Linked DNA regions of Homo sapiens: region 2 is linked to region 1. Evidence: fine-mapped expression QTL. Tissue or cell type: whole blood. Region 1 holds a variant in brackets; the other region holds the start of a gene. All regions are shown on one strand. Distances are from middle to middle.

Region 1 (8,102 bases):
CAGGCGGTCGACAGTCTCACTGGCCACTGGTGGCAGGTTCAAGGTTTCCTGCAGCATCGTTAGCTTCTTTTTCAGGCTCTTGGGGAGGGAAAGAAAAGTGTGTGAGAGAAAGGCTGAGGCATCAAGTCCGGAGATAATGCAGAGGACATGAGCAGCATGCATGAAAGGCCAGCCCACTGGGAACAGAGCAAGGCCTGATACCTCATCATTAGGCTCAGGAGGCCAAGCCCCAGGTAGAGCCCCTCCTCTGATAAGGGACCTCAGGGATGTAAGTGCAGGACAGACTATGAGGGAAGACTCATGGTTCTGTCTGCCCTCTGTTGAGGAGGCCCAGGCTCCAGTCCGGACCAGGGCCAAGGGGCACACCCTGACCCAGGAGGATGCAGGGGCCCAGAACCACCACTGACTGGTGCAAGGGTCCTGGGCAGAGATAGCCCAGCCCTGCTCTGGGAGGGCACACAAACCACCCCTCATTCCTGTCAAGCCAGGGATGTCCCTCACCATGATTTCCTTGTCAGCACTCTGTAAGTCCTTCTGGGCTGACTTCAGTTCTAACTTGGCCTGATCCAATTCAGAGTAGACTGTCTGCAACTATAAGAAAGTGTAGGGAATGAAAGACAAGCCAAGTGGTAGCCTTGTGCCCTGCCCCCTCCTGCTGCTCCCCAGGGAGTGATCAAGGTAGCCCAGAAGAGACTAGAGATATGGGCAGAGATCCCAGCTCTCTGAGGCTAGGCCTCAGTCTGGCAATGCACATCCGGAGCTGCCTAGAAGCAAAGGCTGCTTCCTACATCCTGCAGCCTGTGGATGCACCATGCCAGAAGTAAAAGCAGCTGTGCTGACCGAATCAGGTTCCAGGAGCCCTTCTACTCCAGATGTGGTACAAAAATAGGCCTCTGATGCTGTCACATTTGAGGCCTGTGCTCTCCAGCCAGCTGAGAGGTACCCAGGAGCCAGGAAGAGCAGAGGGGAGCATCAGTGTCCACATGTTGGGGGATACCTCTGTGATCTGTCCACCCCTAGTGGACAAGCCACATATTCAGGCCAATGCCCAGTAAGGACTGGTAACAAATTTCTGTAAGTCCTCCAGCTGCCCCAGGGAGTCAGCTGTGCCATCAGGTCCCATGGCCTTGCTCAGGAGACCAGAGTGAACATGACAAAAGGAGAGCCACTTCTCCTTCAACCTCTGTTCACTGCTAAGTTACCTTGCTTCTGGAGGAAAACAAATCCTTCCTCAGCTTGTCAGCCACCTCCCCTGAGGCCTTCCGTGCCTCTTTTAGATTCTCGTACTCTCTGCAATGTGGCCATGGAAAGAGATGCCAGAAAAGAACACCTGCAGGTCAGACTGAGCCACAGCACTAATCTAACACAAAGCACTGCCCAACCCCTCAACTCACTCTCATTCCTACTTTGACACCTGAGCCCAACAAGTACCAGGTGGCACTGTGGAGGGTCCTGCAGAGAATGCAAGGAAGTGACTATTTCCTCCTGCCTGTCCTGCAGGCACTGGTGACTTGAGAGGGCATGCAGAAAGCCCCAGTCTCACTAGGGGGCTCCCTAAACCACCTGGTCTTAAAGGAGGCATCTTGGACCCTCTATGCCTCTCAGCTAAGTGGCCCTCCACCCTTCCTGCCAACCTTACACCCACCAGAGTGAAGAATATGAGTAGAGTTTGATCCCAGCCAGGCAGGATCATAGTGCTAATGGGGAACAGGCTCTACATATCAATCACAATGGGGCTTATAGCCCAGAGAGCTAGGTCAACTCCCTTAGAAACAGCACTTAAGATTCACACTAAATCCTCAACAATCCTATGAGGCAGGTCTACTACTATTTCCATTCAGGAAGTTGAGGGTCAAAGAGGCCAAGAAACTGGCAGCAGGCCACATAGTTGCTGAAAGGTGGAATCAGGGTTCAAACAAAGGCAGCATGGCTCCAGAGTTTGCCCCTTAGTTCCATCTGCTTTACAAGAGATGGGGAGCAATGACACGGCTGGGGCCCCATGGCCTATCTCCTGTGTTTGCTGAGAGGGGCCACAGTACGCACTTCTTGAGAGACACACAGTACACAGCCAGCTGTTCCACCGCTGACTGTCCCACACCCATGTCTCGGATCATCTCCTCCACCTCAGGGCGCTGGCTCTGGAGTAGAAGCTCAATCCTGAAAAATACACCCAGCCCACGGCATTTGCAATCTGGAGGCTGATGGGTAGGTACCCAGTGCCGCTCTGCCTTCCTTTGCTGCCGTTGCTAAGGTAACAGGCTAGGCTGCCAGGATGCTTTAGTAGGTGGGTGTGCCCAAGGAAAGGCCCTGTGGCAGAGATGAGCATAGCTCCAAGGATGCTGCTGAGAAAGAAGAGGTGCTGAAAGAGGGTCTCAAGGTCAGGGATTTCCTGGAGAGAGGTTTCTGGAAGGAAAGACCCACCAGGTCATCTGGCCACAGGCAGCAGAGACAGGGAGGAATGTGGCAAGGGCTCCCATTCCTTGGAATGGGGGAAGAGTTCATAGAGGCTAAGATCTGTGCCCACACCCAGCTGACCTGAGCCCTCCATGGCCTATGGAGATTTGAGCCTCGGACATGACCCAATCCCACTCCCTGCTGCAGTCCTAAGAACTGTACCACTTGCAGGCCCTGGGGGCAAAGGCACAGTGCAGGACCCAGCTCCAAACTCACTGCTCCATGGTCTTCATCTTGCTCCTGAGCCGGCGGGCCTCCTCTTGTGCTTGTTTGGTCTCATCCTGCTGCTGCTCTAAGTACTTCATCTGCTTCTGAAGAGCAAATACACCCATACCTGATGCTTGGAGGCCCTCAGGAGCCATTGCTAAAGTCACTAGGAAAACTCTGCTCCAGAACTCTCTGCAGCTTATGTTTTGAAAATGCTGATAACCATGTACTCCCAAACCCCAGGAGGTAAAGCTCCTGGGTCCCACTCTCGCTTGTGCTTCTTCTTCTAAAAGGCTCTAAGCCAGCTGCTTCTTCACCTCCCTGCCTGCTTCCTCCTGAAAGGTATCTTACAGTAGACACAGCCCACTGCCAGCATTTACAGGCCCACTGTGGGCTGCCAAGGTCCAGTGGTCTGGGCCTCATGGTACATGTTGTGCAGGTGGCTGAAGAAGTCCAGAGCACAAACCCAGGCCTCACCATCCAACACCCAGACCCATGGACAGTTGCCAAGAATGAATAATTGAGCCAGGGGAAGCTGGCCAGGCTGCCTTCAGCCTAAGACCACTTGTCTCTGACCTGAGAATACCATGAGAGACTCCTGCTCTGCAGCCAGGTGCCAGTTTGCTCCCTCCCACCAGCCAGACCATGTGATCCAGCCCAGCCCCCAAGCAGGAACAGAGACAATGAATATCCTGGGGCCTTGTCTGTTCACAAGGATGGCTCCCTTTCCCTTTCAAATGGCATCCAGCAAGGACTGCTCCTGCCTACAAGGCCAGAATATCAATCGTGGGTTCAGATCAATCGCCTCTCATGCCCCTTGGAGAGCAAGAGGCTCACCAACCCAGGCTGATGCAAAATTCATCTGGGTCTAAGGCTGTTCACTCTGCAGACTTTGATCTGGTTGGTCAGCTCAGCACAGCTGACTTCAAAGGCCCTTGCTCCTCCCTAGGATGCTGTTTGATCTGGCTCAGGAGAGCAGCCCAGCCAAGGACTAGAGTGCTAATGGAAGGTTCTTCAGGCTGGCCTCATCAGTAGAGTATGAACCACTTTCGGAAATATGGCCCAGCCTCACTGAGGTCTTAGTTGAGCATCCCCTCTGTGAGGTACTGGGAAGGCCTTGACTCTTCAAACTACCTAGTACAAAACCCACAAGTATAGCCAATATGGCCCTTTTCTTATGGGATGGATGGGTACAGTATGGAAGGGCAAGGGGAAGAAGTGATTTGCCTCTATTTTACAACTCCCCAAACCAAGGTGATGACTGGAGCAGAACCAGAAGATAAGCCCAGAATGGGGAGTCCAGTTCTGGGGCAATACCTCCCTATGAATTCTGTACCCATAAAACCTGAGGACCTACTTTCAGTGTGGAGCACAGCATCTCGGCCTTGCCCAAGGCCTGCTGCAGAGATACCACAGTAGCATTGCGTTCTTCCAGCGTATCCCGCAGAGTGTCGATGATGACCTGGCTGTCTCGTTTCTCCTTGTCTGGAGCAGGGGTAGAGGGCGGAGGAAAGGGAAAGGCCTGTCCATCCATCAGCAGAAGAACTTGGGCCCTTGGATTCAGTGCCTCATCCCTTAGGCAGGTGAGAAACAAGGCTCAGGCCTGAAAGCTGGGTGGCCCGCTTCTTTCTCTGGGATGTGCCAAACCAGAGAAGCTGAGCCAGAGCCTTCATTCAGGGAAAAGCCCACCTTCTGCTGCTTGAACTACTTAGGAAAATATTTTACTGCCCATTCCCTACCTGCCATGGGTCCAGTTAGTTCATCAACCCAGGACTCAAGCAGGTTCCAGCCAAACTCAGCAGCTGAGCCCTCTCCCGAAGATATTCAGTCCCATCAGG[T/C]AACCCCCTCCCATCTTGGTTCCTGGGCAAGAAGCTGCACTCAGAGACAAGAGGCTCACCTGGTCTAGGTGAACAGCTTCAGTCACCTCCCTTCCCTCTCTTTTTCTGCCCACCACAACAGCTAGCAGGACTCTTGGACATACAAAGCAGGGAAAGGCCCTGGCTCTCCCAAACGGTTTGAAACCTTCCTCCTAGGGCCCCCTTCCTCCAGCATCCAAGTCAGGGGCTTCCCAGCACCCCTCGTCTCTTGCTAACTCACCTTTCTGGGAAAGCTGGGCTCTGACATTGTCCAGTTCATTCTGAAAGGCAATACCCACAATAAGCAGCAGGAAAGCATCATAGCTGACCTCCACGTGGTCTCCCATAAGGCTGTGGGGAGCCCCAGGATTGAACAATGAGGCCTTCTAGGGCATGAATCCTGCAGTGCCTCAAGGCCAAGCTAAGCTAACAATGGAAAGATAAGCACTGCTGTAGCTCTATGTGCCCTTTTGAAAAGTAGGTAAGATGGAGGAAAACAATCTCAGGGGCAAGGCCCCAGGACAGGTAAAGAGGTAGAATAGTGGAAGGGAAGTTAAAGTAGGGCCCCTGTGATCAGTCTCCATAGCAGAAGTTTCTATCACTTCCTTGGCCTCATCGCTCTATGTTGGTCTCATTCCCTCTGGGCATCAGCTGACTCACCAGGGACACACAATAGGAATGGCCAAGGACCTTGGGCGACTACTCCTCCTCTCCACCCTGGGTCTTCCTGATTCATAGTCGACTTTCCTCCAAGCTCTGAACTGGCTCTGTGTACCACAAACCTTCCAGACCTAGTATCCAATGGAGGTAGCTATGCCAGGACAGCTTTGTACCCCTGGATGAAACCTCCCATGTGTCTAGTCTCTAACTAGACTATTGTGAGGATCAAGTGAGCCTCTCAAAGCCCCTGCAAATGTTTCACAGCCATGCCACAGAATCATTGAGAAGCTGTGGCAGAATTGAACCCAGTTCCTGTTCAGGATGCCACAGAACTCAACATCCCCATGAGCAAGAGAGGTGCCTGCTCCATAACAAAGAAATCCAAGGTTTTACAAAACTGAAACGCTTGACCAAGGGTCCATGGTGGTAGCTAGATGGAATCCAGGCAAACCTTACTGTAGATCACTTGTCTAAGATCAACAGAAGACTCAGAATTTCACATGTGACCAATAGTATGGCCCAGGCCCAGTGGGTAAACAAGCCCCTACTGTCAAACTCTCCACCTAGGACTCTGGGGGCAAGAGCTTCTGGTGGCTGGGCTGGTTAGCATAGGCTGAACAGCTGGGAGTGGAGGTGGTGGGTAAGGAAGAGCACGCAAGGGCTGCCTGAGAACAGATACCAGGACATGGCTGCTGCACCACTACCCATAGTCCCCTGACTTCTTCCACACTCCAGCAGGGGCTTCCAAGCCCTTGCTCCAAACTACCCAAGATGTTGCTACCTGTCTCACAAACCTGGCTTTGAAAGCTGGAAATAAATGAAACTGCCTTTGTTGCCTTCATCACAGGGAAGACACTACTTAAAACTGGGAGCAGTTACCATGACGATGAACATGCTTGCTCTAAGCACAAAAGCTCCATGTTCCTGAAGCAGTGAGGTTCCAAGGACATCATGACACCCTGGGGCCAGAGCCAAATGAACTCTGATCTGACAGATATCCAGCAAATTAACCCTCAGAGTCCAGGGATCATTTGTGAACCCAAATCCAACTTCCTCAAGAGTTCTCTGCCAACGCAGCCTGCTTGCACACAAAAAAAGCTAAATTTTAGATTAGGAGGGGAAGCAGTTAGACGTATAGGAGGGAAACTACCCACTTTCCCCTAATATATCCATTCCCACCTGAGCTGCAACTCTTGATTCCAAGAGCTCTGGTCTGGGGAAGGCCCAGGCATCTGACTTTATACCAAGCTCCCTAGGCAATTTTTTTTCTTTTAACTTTTTTTATTTAATAGAGATGGGGTCCCATGTTGCTCAGGCTGGTCTTGAACTCCTGGGCTCAAGTGATCTGCCCACCTTGGTCACCCAAAGTGCTGGGATTACAGGTGTGAGCCATCACGCCCAGCCTCCCCAGGCAATTTTGAGGCACAGGCAGGCTAGGGAACACTGAATCCAAAAATCTCCCGTGGCTGGGGAGTAGAAGAGTTTTCTAATCTGTCACTAACTGTCCAAGCAGCAAAGTAGGCTGTACAGGATGGCTGTAGGTTCTTTAAAAGATGAGGAGACAAGACCGCAGGAGAGAATTCAGGTTGGAATTGACCTGAAATCCCAAAGGGAGGGTTTACAGTCAAGCAGCTCCCCTCTTCCCTCACAGTGCATTTCTCTGATGACTGTGTCTCATCAGTTGTCCTCTGATTTTTGTGTCCCCACCTTGAAAACTGTACCAAGTCTCACCTCTATAACTTCATCTCCATATTCCAGGAACCCTCCACTTATGTGGAAATAGAAAGTGAACTCCCAGGCCAGGCACAGTGGCTCATGCCTGTAATCTCAGCCCTTTGGGAGGCCAAGGTGGGAGGATTGCTCGAGCCCAAGAGTTCAAGACCAGCCTGGGTAACATAGCAAGGCCCTATCTCTATAAAAATTTTTTTTTATAAATTAGGGCTGGGCACGGTGGCCCACGCCTGCAATCTCAGCACTTTGGGAGGCCGAGGTGGGTGGATCACTTCAGGTCAGGAGTTCGAGACCAGCCTGGCCAACAAGGTGAAACCCCGTCTGTACTAAAAACACAAAACTAGCCGGGTATGGTGGCACGTGCCTGTAGTCCCAGCTACTCGGGAGGCTGAAGCAGGAGAATTGTTTTAACCTAGGAGGCAGAGGTTGCAGTGAGCCAAGATCACGCCACTACACTCCAGCCTGGGTGACAGAGTGAGACTTCATCTCAAAATAAATAAATAAATAAATAAATAAATAAATAAATAAATAAAATAAAAAAATTAACCGAGCATGGTGGTGCACCCCTACAGTCCTAGCTACTAGGTAGGCTGAGGTGGGGAGATCCCTTGAACTCAGGAGTTTGAGGTTATAGTGAGCTATGATTGCACCACTGCACTCCAGTGTGGGCAACAAAGTAAGACCCTGTCTCTAAAAAAAGAAAAGAAAAGAAAAGAAAAGAAAAGAGAAAAGAGAAGAGAAGAGAAGAGAAGAGAAAAAAGAAAAGAAAAGAAAAAAGAAAAGTGAACTCGCACAAGGCTTGGAGTTCAGTAGAATCAGATAAATTCTGGGTACCTTTAAGAATTCTGCATCCAAGACATTCTCCTCCTCCTGGGCAAGATCAAAGAAGAGCTTATTGATAATGGTTCTTTTGCCAACCTGGATGGGAGAACAAGGTAAGAGTATGATTGTGTAGCTGGGTCATGCGCAAGGAGGAGAGTGTTGTACATGGGTCTGACTACCTGCCTGACATGCATGTCAGGCCTGTTCTCAGACCTAATTTTTCAAAGTACATCCTTTAGAGTCAAAAGACCTCTTTACTCCTGCAGGTACCCCAAGTTGGGGCTGCTGGTTTCGTGGTCACTGAAGTCATATTACTACAGACCTACACGGTTAAGTGCTCAAAAGATACCTGAACTCTAGGTGCGGAGTCAC
Region 2 (8,102 bases), 170 kb before region 1:
AAGAGCAGAGCCAGGCTGTGCCCGAGGGACCCCAGCTCTTGACTGCACCTGTTTCATGCCTCTCCTCTGTGGCTAGGAGGCTCAAAGGACTGTGAGCCAGGAGATCTGGGCTGGAGCTAGGGGGTCAATGGATGCTCAGGAAGAGCTGGGCCTTTGGCACTTGTGGTGAGAACAGTTGACAGTGGTCATCTGGAACTGTTCATATAAACAGTGGCTTCAAGCTAAGTTTCTTGTGAAGTTTCTCAATAGCAAATCTTACAGAAGGTCCTGTGTGACCCTCTCTGCATCTGTCCCCAGGACCTATGCTCCCTGCTCACCCCCTTCTCCAAAGCCCAAGCGTCCCGCTGCTCATCAGCTTTTTTACCATTGAGCCAGGAGTGCGGCAGGCAGTACCTGCCTGACCCTTCAAGGCCTGACCTTCGTCCAGAGTGCTCTGGTTTGCACCATGCATTTCTCAGGGGTCCGCATTTCTCATGCTTTTCTATAAGATCTACACACCCCTTCAGAGAGGGCTCCTCGCTCACCTCTGGTAGCTATGGATGGGACAGGAAGCTGCCAACCTTTGTGTTGGACTTAACACCCTTGCCTTTCTGGGACTTGGCCTCACCCCACCCATGGAATACCTGCCTCATCCCAAAGATCAGGTATGGGCTGAATGCAGCCATCTGAGCAAGGGCTGAGGGAAGCCATCACCTAACACCTCTGGCCACCCAGGACCAGGTCTGTGTGGGGATGTGCCTTGGAGACCAAGGCAATAGTCCTTTCCACTACAGGCCAGGGGATGGGACAAGAAGTAGGGAACAGGCAGGGAAATGTTAGGAGGTCAGCCTCCAGCAGGCCTAGTCTCAGGCTCTAAAGTACTGACTTTTCAGCAAATTTCCTTTCTGGCCAAGCCCTCTGAGTTTGAAATTCTGACATCTGCCACTCCTCATCCCCCACTGTACCCACAGGATACATCATCGCCCCTCTGTGAAGGTGGCTGGAGCAGGCCTCTGGTCCATGGACTGTCCTTCCTGGCCCTTGCATGGATGCAGTTGTGACTCTGGGGACAATGCAGCCAGAAGCTGAGGGACCAGCACTTGGTGCCTTGGAAAGTAGAGAGCAACAGACACATCTCCAAATGGGCAAGGAGTCTCTAGCATGCAGCCCAGGCCTTCTCCATACCCCTCTCCCCAGCATCATGAGCAAGGGCATTGCCTCCTCTCTCTGCTCACTTCAGGGCCCAGTGCACTCACTTCACAGTGACAGCCCTCCCCTACAATCCTTGGGCAGAGCATGTGGTCTGAGGGCCCACAGTGAAAGAACAGCAGTGGTGGCAACTATGCCTTGCCTTCTGGAGCCTGTAGGGAGTTTTCCAGGCAGGTCCTTTGCCAGGACAGCATGGTCCTGCCCTGTTGTCCCGTCTGCTCTCCTCTTACCCACCCCCATGCTGTAAATACTTGTCATCATGGACTCCAACAGGGTTAGAGGGACAGGCCTAATCAACTGAAACTCCTCGGAGATGCCATCTCTGTCTCCCTGGGTGCCAGCAGCCCTGCTGCCATGTGCACTGGGGTGGCACTGGAGAGCCATGGCAGTCGTGAGATATTGTATGTGTATGCACATGATCATGTGTGTATGTGCGTGCGTGCGTGCGTGTGTGTGTGTGTGTGTGTTTCTGCCTCATTCAGTTTCTGGGGTCAAATCAGCTCCTTCTCTCCAAGTGCACTACCCTGGAGAGTGGTGGCCACTCAATACCTTTTCCTCTAGCTTTCATGTCTTGTTTTTGCTTTCCCCTTCCTCCTCCCTCTCTCCCTTTCTTTCCTTCTCTCCTTCTTTATTTGAGGGGGGAAGAGTGCTGTACAAAGTCAAACAAACAAGTTTACAGTTGTAAGTGCAATGACCCGAGTCCTCCACATGACCTTGTGAATTGTGTGCTGTCCTTCTGTGCTCTGTGAGAACTCGTGGTACTTCAGTGTCCCTCCCCCTGTATTGTGACAAGGTAATTCTGTGGTATCAGAATAAAAGGACTTGATATAAACAACCTACAGACTGTTTCTGGGATGGTTTCTCAAGTGGGAAGGCTTAGCTGAAGGAGCAAATCCCCAAATTTGCGACAATCCTGTCCATGGTTAAAGGGAAAAGGATGGACAAAGTTGCAGAAGTGCTGGCACAGCACGGGGCTGAGTCCACACCAAGCCATCCAAAGACAATGGGCCCTCCACAAAGGTGCCCAAGGGGAGGTCCCAAGCTTGGACCTGGAGCAGGCAGTCAGTGCGCAGGCTGTTGAGGGACAGCACCTCCATGGCCTTCAGGTGTGTTGGCTGCATACACAGCTTTCTGGGACCTGGTTCCAGGGAGGCAGTGAACAAGTGCTGCCCCCTGGTGCTGCCAACAAGCCCTACACCTCTCTGCCTTGCTCCGAATTTTCCAACCCCCAAACTCTCACCGGCTGCCAGACCTTAGGCCTTCCTCAGATGGTCAGGAGTACCTCCTTACCGAAGTCACCCAGAGTTGCTAGACCTTTTTTTTTTTTTTTTTTTTTTTTAACACAGATAAACAGGAATCCCAGCTTCACCTCTGGCCCTCTCCCCAGAATTAACATTTTGATGCGTGTCCTTCTTTCCTGTTTGTTGTTCCAGTCTTCATTTTAAACAGAAGCCAGAAGGTGCAATATATCCTGTTTTCTAGCTTTCTGTTTATTTCCACGTTTATTTCAGGTACTTAAATGTTCGTCTTCCAGTGCTCAACCTCCAGAGAGATACACCATTAGTTCATAGCCAGTCTACCACACACAATCTAAGGAACAGGCACTATGTTCCCAGTGTTCCTATTATAAACAATGCTTGATGAACATCCTATTTTCCAATCTTTCCACCCAAATTGGTGGCTGGGGCCACTCATTCTACTCCTGTTTCTGGCCTTGATACAGTCCTGTACATACTGACAAATGCAGTGGCGTCAGAAAGTTGGGACTCTTTTTTTTTTTTTTTCTTGAGACGGAGTTTCACTCTTGTTGCCCAGGCTGGAGTGCAGTGGCATGATCTCGGCTCACTGCAACCTCCACTTCCCAGGTTCAAGCGATTCTCCTGCCTCAGCCTCCCGAGTAGCTGGGATTACAGGCGCGTGCCACCCAGCCCGGCTAATTTTTGTATTTTTAGTAGAGACAGGGTTTCTCCATGTTGGCCAAGCTGATCCCGAACTCCTGGCCTCAGGTGATCCACCCGCCTCAGCCTCCCAAAGTGCTAGGATTATAGGCGTGAGCCACCGCGCCTGGCACTTTTTTTTTTTTTTTTTTAAGATGGACTCTGGCTGTCGCCCAGGATGGAGTGCAGTGGCGCGATCTCGGCTCACTGCAAGCTCCGCCTCCCGGGTTCACACCATTCTCCTGCCTCAGCCTCCCGAGTAACTGGGACTACAGGCGCCTGCCACCATGCCCAGCTAATTTTTTGTATTTTTAGTAGAGACAGGGTTTCACCGTGTTAGCCAGGATGGTCTCGATCTCCTGACCTCGTGATCCGCCCGCCTCGGCCTTCCAAAGTGCAGGGATTACAGGCGTGAGCCACCGCGCCCGGCCGGCCGGGACTTTTTTTTTTTTTTTTTTTTTTTTTTTTACTTAACTAGTTATCTTGAGTAAGTAATGATGCGGCTGATGGGAAAGGGGAAGCTACAGGCCAGACAAGTGGACTCTCAATCACAAGCACGCCATGGAGCAGGGAGCCAGGGCCCTGAATGTGGAAGACCAGCCAGACTCAGGTATATGGAGGGAACATCCTTACTGTCCAGCCTCTCCTGATCTCTGTTGGCACCTTAGCCCAGCCAATCCTGTACCACGTGCACAGGGAACCTGCCTGCCTAGGTTTTTTCCACAGGAAGCTCCCTGGTCCTGGGTGGAGTCTGAGCCCACCAGGCCTTTCACACCCAAGAGCTCAGGGTGAGGCCTGGGGAGGAAGGCAGGGACCCACCAGCTCACGGTCCCCAACAAGGTGCCACTGAGAAGGCTGGGTAAAGGCTGCGGGGATAGATAGCTCTTGCGGCAGGCCTGGCGACTGATAAGTCCGGGCAGCACCCTAAGAGTTGGCACCCGCCCCTCTGCCCCGCACCCCAGGGCTTTGCTTCGCGCCCTCCGCCCGGACCCTGGCCCTTCTCTTCTTCGTCTGCGTGGAACTCCCTCCAGGGCAGGGCCTGGCACTGTGTAGTGAATGTCGGCCTCGTGGTGGACCCGAAGGAACCCTACAGTCAGCCCCAGAGCCGCGGGAGATCCACGCTGCGGCCGGCTCCGCCCCGCCCAACCCTCACCCTCACGCTCACGCTCACGCTCACGCTCACGCTCACGCTCACAGGCTCCCGGCTCCACATTCCTCGCAGGGCTCCAATCCGGACCCGCCCGCCTTGCCCTTCATCCTCAAAGACTCATTGGTCCCATTCCCCTCGGGCCCCGCCCTTCGCGTGCTTGGGCCATGCCCGTCCGACCGCGCTGCTTCCGCCTTGCAGCACCCCCTCAACCCCTTCTCTCGTAGGCCCTTCTACCCTCCCCGAAGCCGGGCTCCCGGGTTCCGCTTCCACAGGGCCGCCCCCTCTCCTCCGAGATCCAACGCCTCGCCCCTCGGTAAGAGGCCCAGGACTCAGCCCACGGCCCCGCCCCCCACTTGGCTAGTCCGCCCCTGGCGAGACCCCTGCTCTCACCCACCCAGGACTTCTCGCTCCCAGGCCGGGTCCTCTCACCGTCAAGGCCCGCCCCCTGCCAACGGTCCTCACCCATTAGCCGAAGGCCCCGCCCCTCACAGATTGCCGCAGGGCAGGGGCGGAGACAGCCCGGGCCGTCCCAGGCTCCGCCCCCGGAAGCCTCACTTCCGGGCGCGAGCACGCCCCGCCTCGCCCCGGCGGCAGAGAGGAGACTATGGAACGTCAGGTGAGGGCTCGGCCCGCGGTCCCCGTGGTCCCTGCAGCCCGGGCCGGGCCTGACCCTGGTGTGTCCCCTGCGCAGGTGCTGCTGAGCGAGCCCGAGGAGGCGGCGGCTCTGTATCGGGGCCTTAGCCGCCAGCCCGCGCTGAGCGCCGCCTGCCTGGGCCCGGAGGTCACCACGCAGTACGGCGGCCAATACCGGACGGTGCACACTGGTGTGTGTGCGAAGGGGAACTGGCTGGCGACGGGGTCGCGCACTGGGGTGGGAAGGAAGGGGGTGTGGAGGGCTCGCTGCTTGACAGTGCGTAAGGGTATATAGGGAGCCGGCCTGGACTTGGAGGTTACACTCCCACAGGTCCCTGCACACAGGTGTGTGGAGGGGGGGAGGGGGCGTGCGGGGCGTTATCGAATGGCGGCCATGAGTGCACGAGATGACGGCGTAGGGGTAGAAGTCAAACCTGGGCTCAGGGCGTGGACCTTGTAGGGCTCTCCACCAACACGCCATCCCATACACATGCCAGGCTGCCCTCAAGATTCCAGGGTGGATGCTGGGGTTACTAGGGGGTTCTCTCAAAGAGGCTGTCAGCTCAGGCTCTGGAGGCCTGGACTAGGGTTGTGGCCAAGTGTTGTCCAGCCTGCAGCCAGGGTGTCAGTGTCTGGAGACAGATTGAGAGATTGGGGAAGATAGATCTAGGCCTTCCTGGGTCAGGTGGGGCTGGGGGCAGTAGCCAGGAGTAGCCAAGACAAGGTGAGCAGTCTCATGCCTCCCCTCACAGAGTGGACCCAGAGGGACCTGGAACGCATGGAGAACATTCGATTCTGCCGCCAATACCTGGTGTTCCATGACGGGGACTCAGTGGTGTTTGCAGGACCTGCAGGCAACAGTGTGGAGACCCGGGGGGAGTAAGTTTGAGGGAGGAAGCTTGTGGGCAAGGCCACAGCCGTCCGCAATGCAAGCCTTTTATGAATGCTCACCATGTGCCTAGAAGGGAGGCCAGCAGCCAGGTTCTTGCCCCCTTGGGAGCTCATTCAGTTTCTGGTGACATGGCCTGATAAGCACTGGAAGCTTGCTCCAAACTCAGCCTGGACTAGAGCCCATGGTGGCCTGGGGAGTTGCAGAGAGTAGAGTCTCTGCCTCAGGGAGGAAAGGCAAGGTGGGGCTAGAGGTGCTCCAGAAGCTGGTGTGGGGCCAGAGCCTCAAGAATCTCTCCTAAGAGGTGTGCCCAGTAGGGAGCAGGAAGGGGTTATTGCAAGATAATCCTGACCTGTGCTACCCCATGTCCACAGACTGCTGAGCAGAGAGTCTCCTTCAGGCACCATGAAAGCTGTGCTGCGCAAGGCTGGAGGCACGGGCCCTGGGGAAGAGAAGCAGTTCCTGGAGGTGAGTCTGCATGGGACCAGGTAGTGGGTGACAAGAGAGAGGCTCTGCCCCACAGATAAGGCTCTGTTAGCGGGCAAACAGCCTAATGCCCAGATGTCCTCAGGTCTGGGAGAAGAACCGGAAGCTCAAGAGCTTCAACCTGTCAGCGCTGGAGAAACATGGGCCTGTTTATGAGGATGGTGAGGCATCTGGCTGGTGAGCAGGCAGGGTGGACAGGAGGGGTAGCCGTAGCCCTGGGCCCCCCCTGATTGGCCCTCCCTGCACCCAGACTGCTTTGGCTGCCTGTCCTGGTCGCACTCGGAGACACACTTGTTGTATGTGGCAGAGAAGAAGCGCCCCAAGGCCGAGTCCTTCTTTCAGACCAAAGCCTTGGACGTCAGTGCCAGCGATGATGAGATAGCCAGGCTGAAGAAGCCAGACCAAGCCATCAAGGTGCTCGTGGTCAATCCACGAAGGCCCGGCAGGGCAGCCCTGGGGCTCAGTGTGCTCCCTTCCCATACTGTGCCTGTCAGACCTGGGGAGGCACTAGCTTTTAGGAAGCAGAGCAGGTCCTATAGACAGGCTGGGCATTGAGTATCTTGTGTTCTCAGGGGGATCAGTTTGTGTTTTATGAAGACTGGGGAGAAAACATGGTTTCCAAAAGCATCCCTGTGCTCTGCGTGCTGGATGTCGAGAGTGGCAACATCTCTGTGCTTGAGGGGGTCCCTGAGAATGTGTCCCCTGGACAGGTCAGCAGCAACAGCCTGTGTCCCCCCTGGAGTCTGGGACCCTTCTTGAGCTACCACCCCTTGCTCACTCCTGCCCTTTGATCCTGTTTACAGGCATTTTGGGCCCCTGGAGATGCTGGTGTGGTGTTTGTGGGCTGGTGGCATGAGCCCTTCCGGTTGGGCATCCGCTTTTGCACCAATCGCAGGTGAGGGAGTGGGGCAAGGCAAGGGGCCTTGCAGCCCAGCTGGCCTTGAGACTGAGTGTCTGTCTCGTGGTTCCAGGTCAGCCCTGTATTATGTGGACCTCATCGGGGGGAAGTGTGGTAAGTGGCTGATGCCCACCTGTGCTTTGCTGACACATGTTGGCCCTGCCAGCCTGCGTGATGCTCATGTTTCCATCTGGCCCAGAGCTCCTCTCGGATGACTCCCTGGCTGTCTCTTCTCCCCGGCTGAGCCCAGACCAATGTCGCATTGTCTACCTGCAGTACCCATCTCTGATCCCCCATCACCAATGCAGCCAGCTGTGCCTGGTGAGCTGGAGGTGGCAGGGATGGGAGGGTGGTCAGCAAGAAGATGGGATGGTGGATGAGAGCTGAAGGGCCAGTATCATCTCCCCATAGGCCCTCAGTAGGTGCCCTTCTGTCCTCAATGCAGCAGCGGTGTGAGTTCTGCCTGTCCTCTCAAGGAGGGCCTAGAGGTTGAGAGTGCTGCCATGGAGAGCTTTGCACTGTTGGGGCATTCCACCTTGAGAGAATGCTCGTCTGCAAGAATGCTCCTCCCCTTGGCTCTCAACTGCATGTAGCCAGGCTCTGCAAGGGGCTGGGATATAGTGGGGAGTTACACAATCCCAGACCCTCCCCAGGAAGAGCTCTGGGCCCCTGGTAAAAGTCAGAGGGACATGCCTATCTGAGGCCCCTTGGGCATCTGGTCCAGGTCACCAGAAAAGAGATACATCAGGCTTATTCCAGTTCCCCCATCTCCTGGGGCTACCTGAGGCAAAAGGGGATAGGCACAGGGCACTGTGCCCTAAGGGAACTGCCTGTCCCCTACTGGACCTGACCATTGTGTTCTCTTGCAGTATGACTGGTATACCAAGGTTACCTCAGTGGTGGTAGATGTTGTGCCTCGGC

Evidence for each region. PIP is the estimated chance that this variant, and not a neighbour inherited with it, causes the effect.
Region 2: APEH starts here. The variant in region 1 is fine-mapped to the expression of APEH in whole blood (TOPMed, PIP above 0.99).

What each region holds. Positions count from the first base shown.
Region 1 is chr3:49,839,783-49,847,884 of GRCh38, forward strand. It overlaps TRAIP (TRAF interacting protein), which reads right to left. Exons shown (of 15, transcript NM_005879.3): 3 at 7,743-7,826; 4 at 4,759-4,798; 5 at 4,019-4,146; 6 at 2,671-2,765; 7 at 2,044-2,157; 8 at 1,203-1,290; 9 at 502-591; 10 at 1-78. Among named protein-coding and RNA genes, the nearest start is that of TRAIP, 13 kb to the right of the region's middle. The variant T/C (reference allele first, on the strand shown) is at 4,500.
Region 2 is chr3:49,669,523-49,677,624 of GRCh38, forward strand. It overlaps APEH (acylaminoacyl-peptide hydrolase), which reads left to right and starts at 4,829. Exons shown (of 22, transcript NM_001640.4): 1 at 4,829-4,891; 2 at 4,967-5,099; 3 at 5,661-5,787; 4 at 6,172-6,265; 5 at 6,369-6,444; 6 at 6,534-6,697; 7 at 6,856-6,993; 8 at 7,087-7,178; 9 at 7,255-7,295; 10 at 7,381-7,502; 11 at 8,051-8,102. The coding sequence starts at 4,880. It overlaps BSN (bassoon presynaptic cytomatrix protein), which reads left to right. Exons shown (of 12, transcript NM_003458.4): 12 at 1-2,027. RefSeq lists a silencer at 4,514-5,123.